2 linked regions of the Homo sapiens genome follow. The protein of the gene in region 1 interacts with the protein of each later gene in a biochemical or structural test. Each region holds a gene or a part of one and is shown in the gene's direction. Other genes may lie near its edges. The genes, in order: NLRP3 and VANGL2.

The links.
Region 2: the proteins of NLRP3 (region 1) and VANGL2 form a complex in vitro, tested with the Homo sapiens proteins (one study listed by BioGRID).

What each region holds. Positions count from the first base shown.
Region 1 is NC_000001.11:247,418,032-247,427,084, forward strand, and holds part of NLRP3 (NACHT, LRR and PYD domains-containing protein 3), read left to right. Parts: intron 1-21; 5' UTR 22-763; coding exon of another isoform or gene 764-769; coding exon 770-1,046; intron 1,047-5,198; coding exon 5,199-5,318; intron 5,319-5,815; coding exon 5,816-7,568; intron 7,569-9,053. UniProt on the Homo sapiens protein: Sensor component of the NLRP3 inflammasome, which mediates inflammasome activation in response to defects in membrane integrity, leading to secretion of inflammatory cytokines IL1B and IL18 and pyroptosis.
Region 2 is NC_000001.11:160,416,502-160,425,554, forward strand, and holds part of VANGL2 (vang-like protein 2), read left to right. Parts: intron 1-2,500; coding exon 2,501-3,108; intron 3,109-3,443; coding exon of another isoform or gene 3,444-3,492; exon of another isoform or gene 3,493-3,897; intron 3,898-3,909; coding exon 3,910-4,046; intron 4,047-4,550; coding exon 4,551-4,686; intron 4,687-7,550; coding exon 7,551-7,782; intron 7,783-8,616; coding exon 8,617-8,877; 3' UTR 8,878-9,053. UniProt on the Homo sapiens protein: Involved in the control of early morphogenesis and patterning of both axial midline structures and the development of neural plate. Plays a role in the regulation of planar cell polarity, particularly in the orientation of stereociliary bundles in the cochlea.

The sequences.
Region 1 (9,053 bases):
TTCTGCTTTCTCATTTTGTAGATGAGGAAACTGAAGTTGAGGAATAGTGAAGAGTTTGTCCAATGTCATAGCCCCGTAATCAACGGGACAAAAATTTTCTTGCTGATGGGTCAAGATGGCATCGTGAAGTGGTTGTTCACCGTAAACTGTAATACAATCCTGTTTATGGATTTGTTTGCATATTTTTCCCTCCATAGGGAAACCTTTCTTCCATGGCTCAGGACACACTCCTGGATCGAGCCAACAGGAGAACTTTCTGGTAAGCATTTGGCTAACTTTTTTTTTTTTGAGATGGAGTCTTGCTGTGTCGCCTAGGCTGGAGTGCAGTGGCGTGATCTTGGCTCACTGCAGCCTCCACTTCCCGGGTTCAATCAATTCTCCTACCTCAACTTCCTGAGTAGCTGGGATTACAGGCGCCCGCCACCACACCCGGCTCATTTTTGTACTTTTAGTAGAGACACAGTTTTGCCATGTTGGCCAGGCTGGTCTTGAATTCCTCAGCTCAGGTGATCTGCCTGCCTTGGCCTCTCAAAGTGCTGGGATTACAGGCGTGAGCCACTGTGCCCGGCCTTGGCTAACTTTTCAAAATTAAAGATTTTGACTTGTTACAGTCATGTGACATTTTTTTCTTTCTGTTTGCTGAGTTTTTGATAATTTATATCTCTCAAAGTGGAGACTTTAAAAAAGACTCATCCGTGTGCCGTGTTCACTGCCTGGTATCTTAGTGTGGACCGAAGCCTAAGGACCCTGAAAACAGCTGCAGATGAAGATGGCAAGCACCCGCTGCAAGCTGGCCAGGTACCTGGAGGACCTGGAGGATGTGGACTTGAAGAAATTTAAGATGCACTTAGAGGACTATCCTCCCCAGAAGGGCTGCATCCCCCTCCCGAGGGGTCAGACAGAGAAGGCAGACCATGTGGATCTAGCCACGCTAATGATCGACTTCAATGGGGAGGAGAAGGCGTGGGCCATGGCCGTGTGGATCTTCGCTGCGATCAACAGGAGAGACCTTTATGAGAAAGCAAAAAGAGATGAGCCGAAGTGGGGTGAGTGGAAGGAAGACTTTTAAAAAAAATTGTGGCCAAGTGCACATAGTGTACAATTTTCCATCTTTATATATATATATATATATATTTTTTTTTGAGACGGAGTTGCTCTTGTTGCCCAGGCTGGAGTGCAATGGTGAGATCTTGGCTCACTGCAACCTCCACCTCCCGGGTTCAAGCGATTTTCCTGCCTCAGCCTCCCAAGTAGCTGGGATTACAGGCATTGCACCTCCACGCCCGGCTAATTTTGTATTTTTAGTAGAGATGGGGTTTCTCCATGTTGGTCAGGTTGGTCTCAAACTCCCGACCTCAGGTGATCCACCCGCCTCGGCCTCGCAAAGTGCTGGAATTACAGGTGTGAGCCACCGCGCCCGGCCGTAATAATTTTTAAATGTACAGTTCAGTAGTGTTAGGTACACTCACATTGTGCAACCAGTCTCCAGAACTGTTTTCATCTTGCAAAACTGAAACTCCTCACCCATTGAATGATAACTCCTCATTGCCTCATTCTCCCAGCCCTGGTAACCACCATTCTATTTGCCATCTCTGTGAATCTTACTACTCTGGGTACCTCATATAAGTGGAAACATACAGCATTTTTTCCTTTATGAGTAGTTTATTTCACTCAGCATAATGTCCTCCGGGTTCAACTATGTTGTAGCATGTGTCGGAATTCCCTTCCTTTAAAAAAGACTGTATAAATACTCCATGGTACCATATACCAAATTTTGTTTAGTTATCTGTTGATGAACACCTGGATTACTTCTACCTTTTTGTTATTGTTAATGCTGTTATGAGTGTTGGTGCACAAATATCTCTTCAAGACCCTGCTTTGAATTCTCTGGGGTATATACTCAGAAGTGAAATTTCTGAATCATACGGTAATTCTGTTAAATATTTTGAAGAACTGCTCTACTGTTTTAGATACCATCTGCACCATTTCCCACCAACAGCACACAAGGGTTCCAATTTCTCCATATCCTAAGAACACGTTATTTTTATTTATTTTTTCTTTTTTATAGTAGCCATTCTAATGAGTGTGAGGTGGTATCTCACTGTAGTTTTGATTTCCGTTTCCCTAATGATAAGTGATGCTGAGCACATTTTCACTGCTTGTTGGCCATTTATAGAGCTTCTTCAGAGAAAGTTCTGTTCAAGTTCTTTTCTCATTTTCAGACCAGGTTTGGCTTTTGTTGTTGCCTTGTAGGAGTTCTTTATGTATTCTAGATATTAACCCCATATCAGATATATGATTTACAAATATTTTCTCCTATTCTGTGGGTTGTCTTTTCATTTGGTTAACTGTGTCCTTTGATGCACAGAAGTTAGTATGATTTTTTTTTTTTTAAATCATGGCCGGGCATGGTGGCTCATGCCTGTAATTCCAGCACTTTGTGAGGCTGAGGTGGGTGGATCACCTGAGGTCAGGAGTTCAACACCAGCCTGGCCAACATGGCAAAACCCCATCTCTACTAAAAATACAAAAAAAATTAGCCGGGTGTGGTGGTGGGCACCTGTAATCCCAGCTACTCAGGAGGCTGAGGTAGGAGAATTGCTTGAACATGGGGAGTGGAGGTTGCAGTGAGCTGAGATTGCACCACGGCACTCCAGCCTGGGCTAAAGAGCAAGACCCTGTTTCAAAAAAAAATTTTTTTTTCTTGTATTGTCTTGGTTTTTTCTCTTTTCCCCTCTCACGGTAGTGCTATGAGAAGGTGGAGGCAAACTGTTTGCTTTCTCTAACTCCTTTAAAAAGCTGATGCAGACTGTACCTACCCCCTGGGCACCTGCCATGATTAGTCCCTCTTTATCTGAATCTCAGCAGTGCCTAGACCTGCCTCCAATTCTCCATCCAGCTTCTCAGACCACATGTTTTGTCCAGTATCTGCTGTGTGGTCAGCAGGCTTGGGCCTCTGCTTCCTATGGCCCAGAGGGCAGCCTCTCTCCTTGAAGAACCGTGGAGTTTGGGGCAGAAGCCTTTCCTTTCACCACCACTTTGGGAATTGGAATGTAAAAGAAATTCTCTTAATCCCCATGTACACATTGGGGATAAGGTTCTTTCTTTTGTCTTGTGTTCTAGGCAAAGGTAGGGCTCAGAGAAGGGCAGGGTATTGCAGGATGATGATGTAGAGCTGGTGGTGATGGGAAGGAGGAGTACAAATGAGTCAGTGGATAGGGAGACACATGTTAAGGCAGGGCAGCAGTGTGGGTGTAATGACACTGGGGAAACAGACAGCAGTGTGCAGCCGGGGGAGGTCAGAAACCAGTTGCTGCAATGGCTCTCACCTGTAGTCCCAGCTACTCAGGAGGCTAAGGCAGGAGGATCGCTTGAGCCCAGGAGCTCAAAACCAGCCTGAGCAACATAGGGAGACCTCATCTCTAAGTAAATAAAGCAATTATCATTGTGTCAGTACTTATATACTCACATACCCAAATGAAAGTGTCATAATCACAACTGTAGAAGTACTTTGCTAAGCAGTTTTTATGGATTTTATGGCACATTCAAGAAACCCATGAAACAGCTTCTGGTATTATCCCTCCTGCAAGTGAATGAGGTGAGCCTGGAAGAGATCCTAACTGGCCCATGGTTTATTTCTAGCCATAACCAGAGCTGGGGTAAAAAGCAGGGCATGTCTCTGATCAAAGCCTGGCTCTTAACCACTACACCGTCTTTGCTTCCATATCTGGATTTTGAGGCAGAAAAGTTATAACTAGGGTTAGAAGTTTGTTTGTTTGTTTCCTGGGGTGGGGTTAGGTTTTAGGTAATAGACTTTGGCTAATTTACTGTCATGGCTCCTACCTGAGTCCCAGTTACTCAGGTGGCTGAAGTGGGTGCATCACTTGAGCTCAGGAGTTCCAGGCTGGAGTGAGCTATGACCATGCCACTGCCCTCCAGCTTTGGAAACAAAGCAAGACTCTGTCTCTTAAAAAAAAAGAATAAGATTTTGGTTTTGGCTTAGATTTTTTGGATTTTATTTTGTGATATGGTTACCAAGTAGACAGCTGTCAGAGGTCTTTTATGGGCTGGGCGCAGTGGCTTATGCCTGTAATCCCAGCACTTCAGGAGGCCAAGATGGGAGGATTGCTTGAGCCCAGGAGTTTGAGACCAGCCTGGGCAACATAGTGAGAACCTGTCTCTACAAAAAATGCAAACATTAGTTAGGTGTGGTGGCACGTGTCAATAGTCCCAGCTGTTCTGGAGGCTGAGGTGGGAGGATCACTTGAGCCCAGGAGGTTGAGGCTGCAGGGAGCCATGATTGTGTCATTGCACTCCAGCCTGGGCAATAGAGTGAGGCCCTGTCTCAAAAAAAAAAAAAAAATCATTTATGTTACTTGTAGATTCCTGCCCACCTGAAGTTATCTGTCTTATATATTTCCCCTAGTGACTAACTCTTGTTTTACCTAACCTGAATTTCTCCTATAGAATGCCTTCTTAAGATATGCTATCTAGTGACTGTTTGGATTTGTGATTCTCAACACAGATGCATGTTGGAATCACCTGGGAGCTTTTAGTATGTGATGGTTCCTGGGCCTCACCTCAGAGGGACTGAAAAAGAACCTCTGGGCGTGCAGTCCTGAAGTCCATATTTTTAAAGCTTCCTGGGTGATTCTAAAGTCAGCCAGGATTCCCAACCACTAGATTAGGCACGAAATAGACTGGTCGTTCTCACTCTTGAAGAACCAGACATCTAGACTTGACAATAGAAGACGTGTGTAAAATGGATTGCAGGGAACTGCGGTCAGGGAAGGGTGACCTTTCTTAGCCCACAGCCGTGTTGGGGATATAGGAGAGCTTGGAGATGCCCTCACAATCAGGCTGCCAGGGGCAGGCAAAAGCAAACGAGGGTAAAAGAAACTTAGCCTGCTTCGCATGTTTGCTGATTGATTTCCAGGCCTGAGGAAGAGATTCTGAGACTGGGGACAGTGGGAACACATGCTTGGCAGGTGGACAGCAGAAGTTGTTTTGAAACTAGGAGTGCAGAAATGCTCCCAACCAGACTTTTGACTGGATACCTGTCCTCTGCAACTCAGAGCCATGTTTTGATTTGGGGGATGTTTGGGGTCTCCTCTCTCATGCCAAATATTAGGCCAGGTTTCAATTGCATCCTCTGTGATAATAGTTCTGGGTTTTGACACCTTTTTTTTCCCTTTTAGGTTCAGATAATGCACGTGTTTCGAATCCCACTGTGATATGCCAGGAAGACAGCATTGAAGAGGAGTGGATGGGTTTACTGGAGTACCTTTCGAGAATCTCTATTTGTAAAATGAAGAAAGGTAAGCGACTGGGGTGGTGCTTCTAGTTGAGTTTTAAGACCTGGTTCAGGAGGCTCTGGGAAGCTGAGCAGCTGGGTAACTTGGCCATACTATAGGTTCCTGCTCTTTGGAATGCAAAGGCCTGTCTCAGGAAATCCATTGTCAGTTGAAGAAACAAATTCATGTTTGTGTGGCTCTTGCAGTCCCAGAGCCAGCGGCGGTGATTAAGCGTTTCAAGTTTGATAAGGCATAGGATGCAGATTACTTAAAGGAATAAGATTGATTCAAATGATCTTTGGGCTGGTAGCTACACATAGAGATGGGCCTTCTGCTCAGCTGTGTATCTTAAAAACTTGACACCAGAGATTCTCGGCACCTTTCCTACCCAGTGGGGAGGAGCTGCACCTTCCATTTCTCCATTCCGGTTACCACTCGCTTCCGATGACAGGCCCCAGCTGAGAGCGCATCTCAGGTGGATGTGTGTATACTTTCCCCCTAACTTCCTGTCTTTGCCGTAGATTACCGTAAGAAGTACAGAAAGTACGTGAGAAGCAGATTCCAGTGCATTGAAGACAGGAATGCCCGTCTGGGTGAGAGTGTGAGCCTCAACAAACGCTACACACGACTGCGTCTCATCAAGGAGCACCGGAGCCAGCAGGAGAGGGAGCAGGAGCTTCTGGCCATCGGCAAGACCAAGACGTGTGAGAGCCCCGTGAGTCCCATTAAGATGGAGTTGCTGTTTGACCCCGATGATGAGCATTCTGAGCCTGTGCACACCGTGGTGTTCCAGGGGGCGGCAGGGATTGGGAAAACAATCCTGGCCAGGAAGATGATGTTGGACTGGGCGTCGGGGACACTCTACCAAGACAGGTTTGACTATCTGTTCTATATCCACTGTCGAGAGGTGAGCCTTGTGACACAGAGGAGCCTGGGGGACCTGATCATGAGCTGCTGCCCCGACCCAAACCCACCCATCCACAAGATCGTGAGAAAACCCTCCAGAATCCTCTTCCTCATGGACGGCTTCGATGAGCTGCAAGGTGCCTTTGACGAGCACATAGGACCGCTCTGCACTGACTGGCAGAAGGCCGAGCGGGGAGACATTCTCCTGAGCAGCCTCATCAGAAAGAAGCTGCTTCCCGAGGCCTCTCTGCTCATCACCACGAGACCTGTGGCCCTGGAGAAACTGCAGCACTTGCTGGACCATCCTCGGCATGTGGAGATCCTGGGTTTCTCCGAGGCCAAAAGGAAAGAGTACTTCTTCAAGTACTTCTCTGATGAGGCCCAAGCCAGGGCAGCCTTCAGTCTGATTCAGGAGAACGAGGTCCTCTTCACCATGTGCTTCATCCCCCTGGTCTGCTGGATCGTGTGCACTGGACTGAAACAGCAGATGGAGAGTGGCAAGAGCCTTGCCCAGACATCCAAGACCACCACCGCGGTGTACGTCTTCTTCCTTTCCAGTTTGCTGCAGCCCCGGGGAGGGAGCCAGGAGCACGGCCTCTGCGCCCACCTCTGGGGGCTCTGCTCTTTGGCTGCAGATGGAATCTGGAACCAGAAAATCCTGTTTGAGGAGTCCGACCTCAGGAATCATGGACTGCAGAAGGCGGATGTGTCTGCTTTCCTGAGGATGAACCTGTTCCAAAAGGAAGTGGACTGCGAGAAGTTCTACAGCTTCATCCACATGACTTTCCAGGAGTTCTTTGCCGCCATGTACTACCTGCTGGAAGAGGAAAAGGAAGGAAGGACGAACGTTCCAGGGAGTCGTTTGAAGCTTCCCAGCCGAGACGTGACAGTCCTTCTGGAAAACTATGGCAAATTCGAAAAGGGGTATTTGATTTTTGTTGTACGTTTCCTCTTTGGCCTGGTAAACCAGGAGAGGACCTCCTACTTGGAGAAGAAATTAAGTTGCAAGATCTCTCAGCAAATCAGGCTGGAGCTGCTGAAATGGATTGAAGTGAAAGCCAAAGCTAAAAAGCTGCAGATCCAGCCCAGCCAGCTGGAATTGTTCTACTGTTTGTACGAGATGCAGGAGGAGGACTTCGTGCAAAGGGCCATGGACTATTTCCCCAAGATTGAGATCAATCTCTCCACCAGAATGGACCACATGGTTTCTTCCTTTTGCATTGAGAACTGTCATCGGGTGGAGTCACTGTCCCTGGGGTTTCTCCATAACATGCCCAAGGAGGAAGAGGAGGAGGAAAAGGAAGGCCGACACCTTGATATGGTGCAGTGTGTCCTCCCAAGCTCCTCTCATGCTGCCTGTTCTCATGGGTAAGGAAACTCGGCTTCCAGGTGCTTCCTCCTGCTTCCTCGCCAGCTTCTTCTTGGCGCTTGCCTCCTCTCATCTCTTTTCAACTATCTTCCAAATACTGTTGCCACAGCTACATCATAATGCCACCACTGTCTGTTTGAGACTCCTTCATGAGCAAAGATTGATGTATGGTAGGTGGATAAATGGGATGAGGAAAAAAAAAATAAAACAAGGAACAAATGTTTGGGGAATGCCAGTTTAGCACAAGGTATTAAGTAGGATGTAGGATTGCCTACAAATATTTGTCAACTGAAATTTCTTGTAAGCTACTTGGAGCACTAGTGCCTAAGAGTCAGTCAATGTCTGTGGGGCAGAACAATGCCAGAGAGTCTGTGTCCCAGGAGCGAGGGGACAGAGGGCCTCAGAGCTGGAGGCTGGGGGGATGTTTCTTAGAAATGTGCAATCTAAGCCTCCTTTAAGGAATGGTGGGACCTGGGCGCATAGAGAAGAAATTAAAGGAATTCTGCACTGAAGACTGGTATGAGCCAAATCATGAATGCAGTCTGAGAAAAAGTGTGTGCAGGTGACAGTGGAGAGAGACACAGTTTCCTTGGAAAAAAACATGATGAAGGTAAATCAAGGGAAATAGAGCAGAAATGTGGAGACCCTCTTTCTAGGCCCCCATGTTGCTCTGCACTGGGCATTGCCAAAACCCCGTTTTCGGGTCTGTTCACACACTTGCTGGGTGGTTGGAAGCTAGTGGCCAAGTCTGTGCAATGAAGTGGTTGAGTCACCTGACTTCTGAGTCCCTTTTGGGTTTATCGTTCAGTGCCTCCTGCAGAAGGACCACCCACAGTGGTTGTAGGAAGGTGGCCACCCTGTGATGTGTGAGTTTAGCCTGGATAGAAGACACTTGACGTGGGGCAAAATTAAGGGAAACAGGAGGCTTGGCCCTTCCACAGGCAACAATGAGTTTCAGCTTTCTTGATCCGTTGACATTACCATGACCAGGACCACCTTCCTAGTCATGGTTTGGCCATGAAGGACTGACTGCCCACAGGGCCGCAGTGGTGGTGAAGACCCAGGTCCTGGTCACAGGGACTTGAGGTCTGGCTGTGGGACAGTCCGGAAACAAGTGCAGATGTCGGGGAGGGGGTCATGGGCTCTGACAAGGAAACTTGCAGAGTATCCAAAGCACAAGGGGACGAACCTGTTCACCAGCGGGGCACGGGTGGGTGTCCCCGCTCAGCCAGCTTCCGGAGGATGGGCAGTGAGAGAGTGAGAGAAGGAAAGGGGCAGCCAGGCTGGGGGCTTACGGTGTTGAGAGAGAGGGCAGGTGTGGGAAAGCAGGGTACGGTTTCTACGGCAGCAAACAGTTCCGAGTGACTGGAAAAAAGACAGTTGTCTTCATTCATCAGGTTGCCATAACAAAACACTGCAGGCTGGTTGGCTTATAAGCAAAAGGAAGGTTCACCTTACGGTTCTGGAGGCTGGGAAGTCCATGA
Region 2 (9,053 bases), about 87 Mb from region 1:
GGAGCAGGAGGGTGGTGGTGGTGGCTGGGCCTGGGGTATGTGTGAGCAAAGCTGAGTATTCCTGGAGCCTCGAGATGTGGGCACTCTGTGCCCTCTGGTGTCAGCCTGTAGAATGGCGTCACCTAGATCTTGGGAAAGGAGTATGGGAAGAGTAGATGGAGAAAGCCCAAGGGACAAGAAGTAAGGCTGAGGGATGGAGCAGGGACCCCAGGAGAGAGTTCTCCAGGACAGGGGTGAGCAGGTTTTCTATTCTAACCTCTGCTGCCCACTGTGCTCACCTGGTAGGGAGGACAGTGGGCAGAACACAGTCCTGGAATAGGGCAGAGGCAGGATTTTAGGTGACACTGAGGTTGCCCAAGTCTCATTCCCCTTGGGATCATCTTTGGGGGCTGGAGATTCCCAGCTCCTTTTTCCTCAGAAGAAATCTCTGTGGCTGACATTGGGAATTCCTGGGCCTTGGGAGCAGGTCAATACCTGAAGGAAATGTTCTTTTTCCCTCTCTCCCAATCCCTTCTTCCTGGGGCCTGGCCTCCTGAGTTCTTGAAGTGACCCTGAGACATGACCAGCTCACCTGCTACTGGGGAGGAGATCCCAAGCCCTTGGTCCTTGGAGGGGGTGGGCAGTATGTCTAGGGGTCAGAGGGCGGGGAGCAGACCCAGGGCTTTGAGCTGAAGGCAGTCAGTGCATCTGCTTTCTATCTTCACATCAGACTCGTTCCCCATCCTGTAGAGAGGAGGTTCCTCAACCTCCCTAATCACTGGTGCTGTCGGGCTGCCTTCATCCTGTAACCTCAACCTCCTGGGTGTCAGGTTGTGATTCCATATCCCCAGGCTGTCCCAGGAGCGAAGGGTGGGTGCTGAAGGCAGCTGGTGGTCTTGGGACTCCTCCGTGGGATGGCCTCCAGCCACTGCAGAGAAACAGCTTGAGCAGACCACACTTAGAGGGACACCTGGGGACCTCAGCCTGGCCACCTTCTTGCCTCCAGAGACAGGTAGCCTCTGCACTGTAGACATTTAGATGGCCCAGCAGAGGTGGCCTTGCAGACCAGAGACCCAGAGTGGCCTTGAGTCTGCACAGTGTCCTTCACGCCTTCACCCCTTTACCCCTGGGGTCTTCTGTTCTTCTCTGTGCTGCTTTGATCAGGTTTACTCCTTCAGTGGCTCTCCATGCCTGGAGAACAGGTGCTTATTGCCCAGCCCAGCACTGCAGCGTGGCCTGCACAAGCCCTGCCTGGCTGCTGTCTGCCTTACCTTCCTGGTTGCACCTTGCTGTGCTTCTGCACAGGGATCCTCTGCTCTCATAGCCCTTGGGTGCCTCAGTTCATGCCATTCCTGCCCTGGAGGCTCCTCCTCTAGCTTCTGCCAAAATCATGGCATGCTGGAAGGAACTTAGATAGGACTTCCATAATTTTTTTTTTTTTTTTTTTTGAGATGGAGTTTCGCTCTTGTTGCCCAGGCTGGAGTGCAATGGCACGATCTCTGCTCACCACAACCTCCTCCTCCTGGGTTCAAGCGATTCTCCTGCATCAGCCTCCCGAGTAGCTGGGATTACAGGCATGTGCCACCACACCCAGCTAATTTTTTGTGTGTGTGTGTTTTTAGTAGAGATGGGATTTCTCCATGTTGGTCAGGCTGGTCTCGAACTCCCGACCTCAGGCGATCTGCCCACCTCGGCCTCCCAAAGTGCTGGGATTACAGGCGTGAGCCACCGTGCCCAGCAGGACTTCCAGAATTAATGTTAATGTTTGAGTGATTCATGTGGATCTTGTTAAAATGCAGATTTGGTTCAGTAAACATGCGGTGGGCCTGAGGTTCCGCCTTTCTAACAAGCTCCCAGGTGATGTCCACACCGCTGGTCCACAGATCACATTTTAAGTAGCCAGCCAGCCCTTAGAAATCATTTAGTTCAGTGATTCTCAATCTTGGATGACCATTACAATCATCTGGGGAGTTTTTTGTTTTTTTTTTTTAAAGGTTCACAAGCAGATTGCACTCTCCAATAATTAGCATTATTTTCCAACTTCCCTAAGTGTTCTAATGTGTGCATCTGGGATTGAGAACATCTTCCTTGGAGCCCCCTTCCCCCAAGGATCAGCTCAGGTCCCACGGTTTCTGGAAGCCTGCCTGCTTTGCTTGGCGAGTTTGCCCTTGGATCCCAGTCACTGCCTGAGCAGCATCTTCAGCATTTGTCCTGTGCTGTCTGCTCTGAGGGTCATTGCCGCATGTGTGGTTTTTTCCTCTCTCACTGACCAGTGTCCAGCTCCCCGAGGGCTCGGGTCTTGGATTTGGCCATCTGCAGAGGCCAGACTTTGACACACATTGGAGCTCAGTAAATACTTTGATGGTTGCGTATTTGTTGATTACCCTCTCTTCTTTCTGCCTTCTCCTTTCCCATGTGTTCTTCTCTGTCTCCTGTCCCCTCACCCTTTCTCCTGTTTCCCTCCTCTTCCTCTTCTTATCCTTTCCTCCTTATTGTGTGGCTGGCCCCCTTCTGCCTGTAGGATGACAACTGGGGGGAAACGACGACAGTAGTAACGGGCACCTCAGAGCACAGCATCTCCCATGATGACCTCACACGCATCGCCAAGGACATGGAGGACAGTGTCCCTCTGGACTGCTCCCGTCACCTGGGTGTGGCAGCGGGGGCCACCCTGGCACTGCTGTCTTTCCTCACGCCTCTGGCCTTCCTGCTGCTGCCCCCACTGCTGTGGCGGGAGGAGCTGGAGCCTTGCGGGACGGCCTGCGAGGGCCTCTTCATCTCTGTCGCCTTCAAGCTGCTCATCCTGCTACTGGGCAGCTGGGCTCTGTTCTTCCGCCGGCCCAAGGCCTCGCTGCCCCGCGTCTTTGTGCTGCGTGCCCTGCTTATGGTGCTGGTTTTCCTGCTCGTGGTCTCCTACTGGCTCTTCTATGGTGTGCGCATCCTGGATGCTCGGGAGCGCAGCTACCAGGGCGTGGTGCAGTTCGCCGTGTCGCTGGTGGACGCCCTTCTTTTCGTGCACTACCTGGCCGTGGTCCTGCTGGAGCTGCGCCAGCTCCAGCCTCAGTTCACGCTCAAGGTCGTGCGCTCCACCGACGGCGCCAGCCGCTTCTACAACGTTGGCCATCTCAGGTACTAGCCCACGGCTGGAGAAGGGTTGGGAGGGAAAGGGCATGGGAGGATGTGGAGTGACTGCTAGGGTGGGAGGGTATGATGGTGGGCTGGAGGTGATGGGCTTGGAGGGTTGTGTGGGAGGGAGTTGAGTACTTTGCACCAAGTAGGTTTTCACCAATGTTTGCTGCTTGATAGGCAGGTTCATGTACACGGTCTTGGGGCAAGATCAGTTGGGAGTTATGAGATGGGAATGAATAGGCATTTAGAGGTAGGGAATATTAGAGGGGGATGGACCAAAGGGAAGAAATATGGGGGGGTGCACAAACAGGGGCTTTTTGGAATCCCTTTTCTAGTCCTTTCTGGGAGGCGCAGCTTCTTGTGAGCACTCAGAGTGGCCTGTGAAGTGACCTGGCCAGAGGAGGGATCCCCAGAGAAAGAGATAAGGAGGAGAGTTCTTCAGCTCCCAGTAAACAAGCTACCCCTCGAGGCCACACAGAATATCAGTGGCACGTCCTGGGTCCTGTAGAGGATCTTGGGGGAACGCTGAATGGGGATGAGGTGATCTTTGGCTGGGGACCCAGGCCCAATGCCCTTTCTCTGCTAGGCTTTGGCATGGTGGGGAGGGACTGGCAGGCCCAGCCCTGGGAAAGGCTTGGGAGCCTGGTAAGTAGACCTCAGGCCCGGAGTCAGGCTTCTCGGAAGCAGCTTGTCCCTGTCCTGTGTCCTCTCCTGCCCTGCCAACCTGCCCTAATGTGTCCCTTTCCCCTGTGCCCCTTGGTCTGTCCCTTCTCCCACCCCCTCCTGCCGTCTCCCCCACAGCATCCAGCGCGTGGCAGTGTGGATCCTGGAGAAGTATTACCATGACTTCCCTGTCTACAACCCTGCCCTCCTCAACCTGCCCAAGTCCGTCCTGGCCAAGAAAGTGTCTGGCTTCAAGGTGTATTCCCTCGGAGAGGGTGAGCAGCCCTGCTCCTCTGCCCTTCCCTGTCTCTTCCCAAGCAGGACTCCAAGTTCCCGCCTCTCTTTTACCCTTTGTCCCTTGCTTTTTCCTTTCCTTAGCCCATGTTCTAGCCGCTTCTATTCAGTCATTTCCCTTGACTCCAGGTGGCTGATCTTAGCTGCTCATCCTACTTGCTGTCCCTTTATGCTATGGCATGTCCCCTGATCTGGCTCCTCTGTGTCTCTCATCAGCCCTGGTCTAAGCCCTTTGGCTCTCGGAGCTGCAGAACCCCCTGCACTGGGGAGGAACAACTGCAGGACTCTTGCGCTTCCAGTGCCTTCCTTGTTGCTTTCCTATGGCCTCTCCCAGAGGTGGCCAGGAGGGTTGGGATTAGGAGGTATTGCTGGGTGGTGGGAACAGCTTCTTCTGGACATGTCAGGCTGCTGTCTCCAGAGCTCCTGGAGTGGGAAGAGAGGCCACACTCTGATGTGACCATCTCCTCTATCCTGTTCCTGTGCAGAAAACAGCACCAACAACTCCACTGGCCAGTCTCGGGCTGTGATTGCAGCGGCAGCTCGGAGGCGGGACAACAGTCACAATGAGTACTACTATGAGGAGGCTGAGCATGAGCGAAGGGTGCGCAAGAGGAGGGCCAGGTGGGTCCCTGGGGGAGAAGAGGAGAGGAGGTGCTTGTTGGGTGAATGGGGAGAGGAAGACCAAGGAACTTCTGTAACTGCTGGAAATATAGGGCAATGATGACATGAGTTGGGGGTGTGTGCTTGTTTTCCGTTGCTGCCCTAACAGATTACCATAAACTTAGCAGCTGTGAAACAGCACACATTTATTATCTCCCAGTTCCATGGGTCAGGTGCAGGCTGGCTGGAGGCTGTGCTCAGGCCTCACAGGCTGAAATCAAGAGGACTCTCATCTGAGCCTATGCTTTCTCTTTCAAGCTCATTATTATGGGGAGAATTCAGTGCCTTGTCACATAGCCCCATAGGCAGTTTACATGATGGTAGTGCACTTTTTTTTCCAGCAGAAACAGGTCTCTGACCTCTGCCACCAGCTGGAGATAATGCTGATTTTAAAGAGCTCATGTGATGAGATCAGGCCCTAAAGGACAGTCTTCTTTTAAGGCCACTGACTTGGCACATTAATTACATCTGCAAAATGTACCAAGATTGTTGTCTAATGAGGGGATGGGAGTCTGGTAGAAGTGGAGGGTATCTTTGAATTCTGCCTGCCACAGTGGGGTAGGGACCCAATAAAGGGATGTGAGCTTTACCTGCAACAGCATGGACTCAGGCTAGACTAGCCTGCCTGCCAGTAGATCTTGAGAGGACTCACCAGATGGTGCTTTTGTTGCCTTCAAAAAATGACGTTTTATTGCCTATATTTTGGTAAATTCTTAAATGCCATCCTAGCTTCTCCCTTTCCCTATTCATATTATTAAGTGAATTTAGTCAACCCTGAAGAATCTTACTTGGTGCCTACTCTGCCGGGTTCCATCTTGGTCTGTCGGGAGTTCCCTGAGGGAGGAGCAGAGTGCCTCAGGACTTGACCACGCACCTGGCCTCCGCCCCATCTCCCACATGAACTCCAGGCTTCAAGGGCAAGAGGTAGCCCTTACCTTGTTCCTATTTGAGGCTGGCATCCCCTGTAGTAGAACAAAGATCACCAACTCCATTTCTGTGGCATTCCAACCTGTCTCTAATTGTCTTGGAAATGGCCTGAGACTTGGGAAGGAAACCAGTGATGTCCCTACCCCTTTATCTTCTGCCCTGACCAGGGTCATCCAATCTCCTGTACTGCCACCACCATTTTTGGCACATAGAGGACTCTTTCCTTTCCCCATTACCTTGCTTTTAACCAGGAGCAAACTTTTTCCTTTGTTTACCTGAGATAAAAGGATCTTTTCAAAGGGAATTTACTGAGAAATGTAGGGGAAGCAAGAGAATAAAGGAAGAAATGATAGACATACACAGATCCACACCTATATACCCAGAGTCCCATCTGAAATGACTCAGGTTCCTGGGTTCTGCATAGAAGGCCTCACTTTCTTTCTTTGTCCTGTCACTTCAGGCTGGTCCTGCTCTTAGGCCAGGGGGCTTTTATTTTGGTTTTTGGACTTGAAGTGCAGATAATTGCATTAATTGCTCTTTTCAGCTTCTAACATATTGTCATTATAGAGTTTTTCATGGTTCTTTATTCTGTTTCTTCTTTTCCTCCAGTTCCCACTTTCACTCCAGCGCCACATTTTAGGCATCCTGTTGAGTGTGTTTGACTTCCTTAAAAGCTATATGTATCCTTGTGCAAAGTTAGTGTTAGTGTAGTGATCTTTGTTGGTGTTGGTGTGTGTGTCTGTATGTATGCTTTTTTTTTTTTTTTTATTGAGATGGAGTCTTGCTCTGTCCCCCAGGCTGGAGTGCAGTGGCATGATCTCAGCTCACTGCAACCTCCGCCTCCTGGGTTCAAGTAATTTTCCTGCCTCAGCCTCCCCAGTAGCTGGGATTACAGATGCACACCAGCATGCCCAGCTAATTTTTGTATTTTTAGTAAAGATGGGGTTTTGCCATGTTGGCCAGGCTGGTCTTGAACTCCTGACCTCAGGTGATCCACCTGTCTCACCCTCCCAAAGTGCTGGGATTATAGGCATGAGCCACCACACCCGGCCATCTATATGCTTTTAATGTAAATGGATTTTTTTTTCCTGCTTCCTCCTTAACACTGTGTTTTTGAGATTCATCCAAGTTGTCTGTACATCTAGTTTGTTGCATCTTTTTGCTGCATAGTAGTTCATGGAATACTCCCAACATCCTATCCAATATTTGGTTTATAGTTACCTTCTTTCTTTTTTCCATTTTGATGGAAAAGTAATATTTTACTAACATTTTCATTTGCATCTCTCTAATTGCTAGCCAGTAACTACTTCGTATATCTTTTAGCCTTTCAGTCCTCTTGTGAATTTTCTGTTCACCTCCTTTGCCCTTTTTTCTCTAGGTTTCCTGTCTTTTTCTTCTTGATAGAAATTGTAGCAAATTCTTTGCATGTTCTAGATCTGAATCCCTTGTTGGTTTTAGATGTGTATATTTTCCCCAGCTCCATCAGATGTCAGTTAATGTTGCCCATGCTGTCATGGTTGAACAGAAATCTGTCATTTTGATGTAATCATATCTATTAATTGTTGAGCCAATGAAGTATGATTTGGGGGTCTTATTTAAGAAGGTTTTCCTTAAAGTTTGGTGGAATGCTTTGTCTTTCCTATAGCATAGTTCCTAGTTGTCTCTCTGGGTTTGACACTAGGTTTGCCCTCTGAGTCCCTGGGCTGGGCCCACTGAACTCTGTGGCTGTTTACTGTTCCCAGTGGCAGAAAGGCACTATTGCCTCTGGCTTTGTATTACTTTGGGTGAGCACAAAGGCCTGACCTCATTCAGGCTGCTGGAGTGTTGGAGCTAGGGGAGAGGGGTGGGGTGGGGGAAAGAGAGGTGGGCATCTGGCCCAGTCCCCTCCTGTCCCCTAGGCTTGTAGTGGCGGTGGAGGAGGCCTTCACTCACATTAAGCGGCTGCAGGAAGAGGAGCAGAAAAACCCCAGGGAGGTGATGGACCCCCGGGAGGCAGCCCAAGCCATCTTTGCATCCATGGCCCGTGCCATGCAGAAGTACCTTCGGACCACCAAGCAGCAGCCCTACCACACCATGGAGAGCATCCTGCAGCACCTTGAATTCTGCATCACGCATGACATGACGCCCAAGGTAGGCCTGCCCTGCTGCCAGCATCCTTCCTCCTTCCCCAGCTCCTCTTCTTTCCCACCTTCATTTTCCCTTATTCTCTCACTACTTTCCTCACTGTCCACCTCATTTCTCTCTCCTCACCACCTCCTTTTTATAATCTTCTCTCTCATTCCTATTCCACCTGCCCCATCTGTGTGGGGTGAAGTCTTTAGGTAGATGAGGAGAAGGGAGTCCTCAGGACCATTTTGGGGATGGCTGAGACTTATTTCTCATCTCTATGAGGGCTCCGGAATTACCAGATCCAAAGGCCCACTTTCACCTCCATTACCCTCTTCACCTCCACTAGCTGGTCTTGGCTTTGTGTCATTTTGAGCCATTGCCCACCTTCAACTCTATTGCCAGCTTCCTAGAATTGCTTTCCCTGAGCCACCCTTGGTGAGCAGGTAACTAAAGATGTTGCACTTTAACCTTGACACCTTTGGCTCCCTCCTGGTGCAGACCTGCTTGGCACGAATCATACAAGCTGTGTGGGAAGGAAGGAAGAATGAGGGAGGGCTTGCCCAGGTCACAGCCTGGTGCAGGGAGAAGAGCAGCAGATGGGGGTCAGGGGAGCCGAGTTCAGTCCTACCTGATGAGCCACATCCCCCTGTGCACTCCGGCTTCTTCATTTATAAAATGAGGGTCTGAAGCAGATGATCTCAGGCCCCTTCCTGCTGTAACATTCTGAGGTTCTAGTTCATATGCATAGAGTGAGCTCAGGGACGTCCTTCTTGTCTTTGGAAACTATGACCTAGGGGATGAAGGACCGTGGGTAGATGACAGAGATTCTTATGCAGCCCCTTCTTTCCACTTCAGGCCTTCTTGGAGCGATACTTGGCGGCTGGACCTACCATCCAGTACCACAAGGAACGCTGGCTGGCCAAACAGTGGACATTGGTGAGCGAGGAGCCGGTGACCAACGGCCTCAAGGATGGCATCGTTTTCCTCTTAAAACGCCAGGACTTCAGCCTGGTGGTCAGCACCAAGAAGGTCCCATTCTTCAAACTCTCCGAGGAATTTGTGGATCCCAAGTCACACAAGTTTGTCATGAGGCTGCAGTCTGAGACCTCAGTGTGACTGTGCAACAGCAGGGGGAGTGGGAAACTCTGGGGGGTCCTGAGGGGGTGGGAGGGGGCTTGGTTCTCAGGCCCAGCCACATTCCTGCCACCCTTCTTCTTCTTGCTCTTTTTTTTTTACTTGAATTAACGCACCCCCACCTTCTCTCCTCGCTTCTTCCTTATTTTACCCCATGT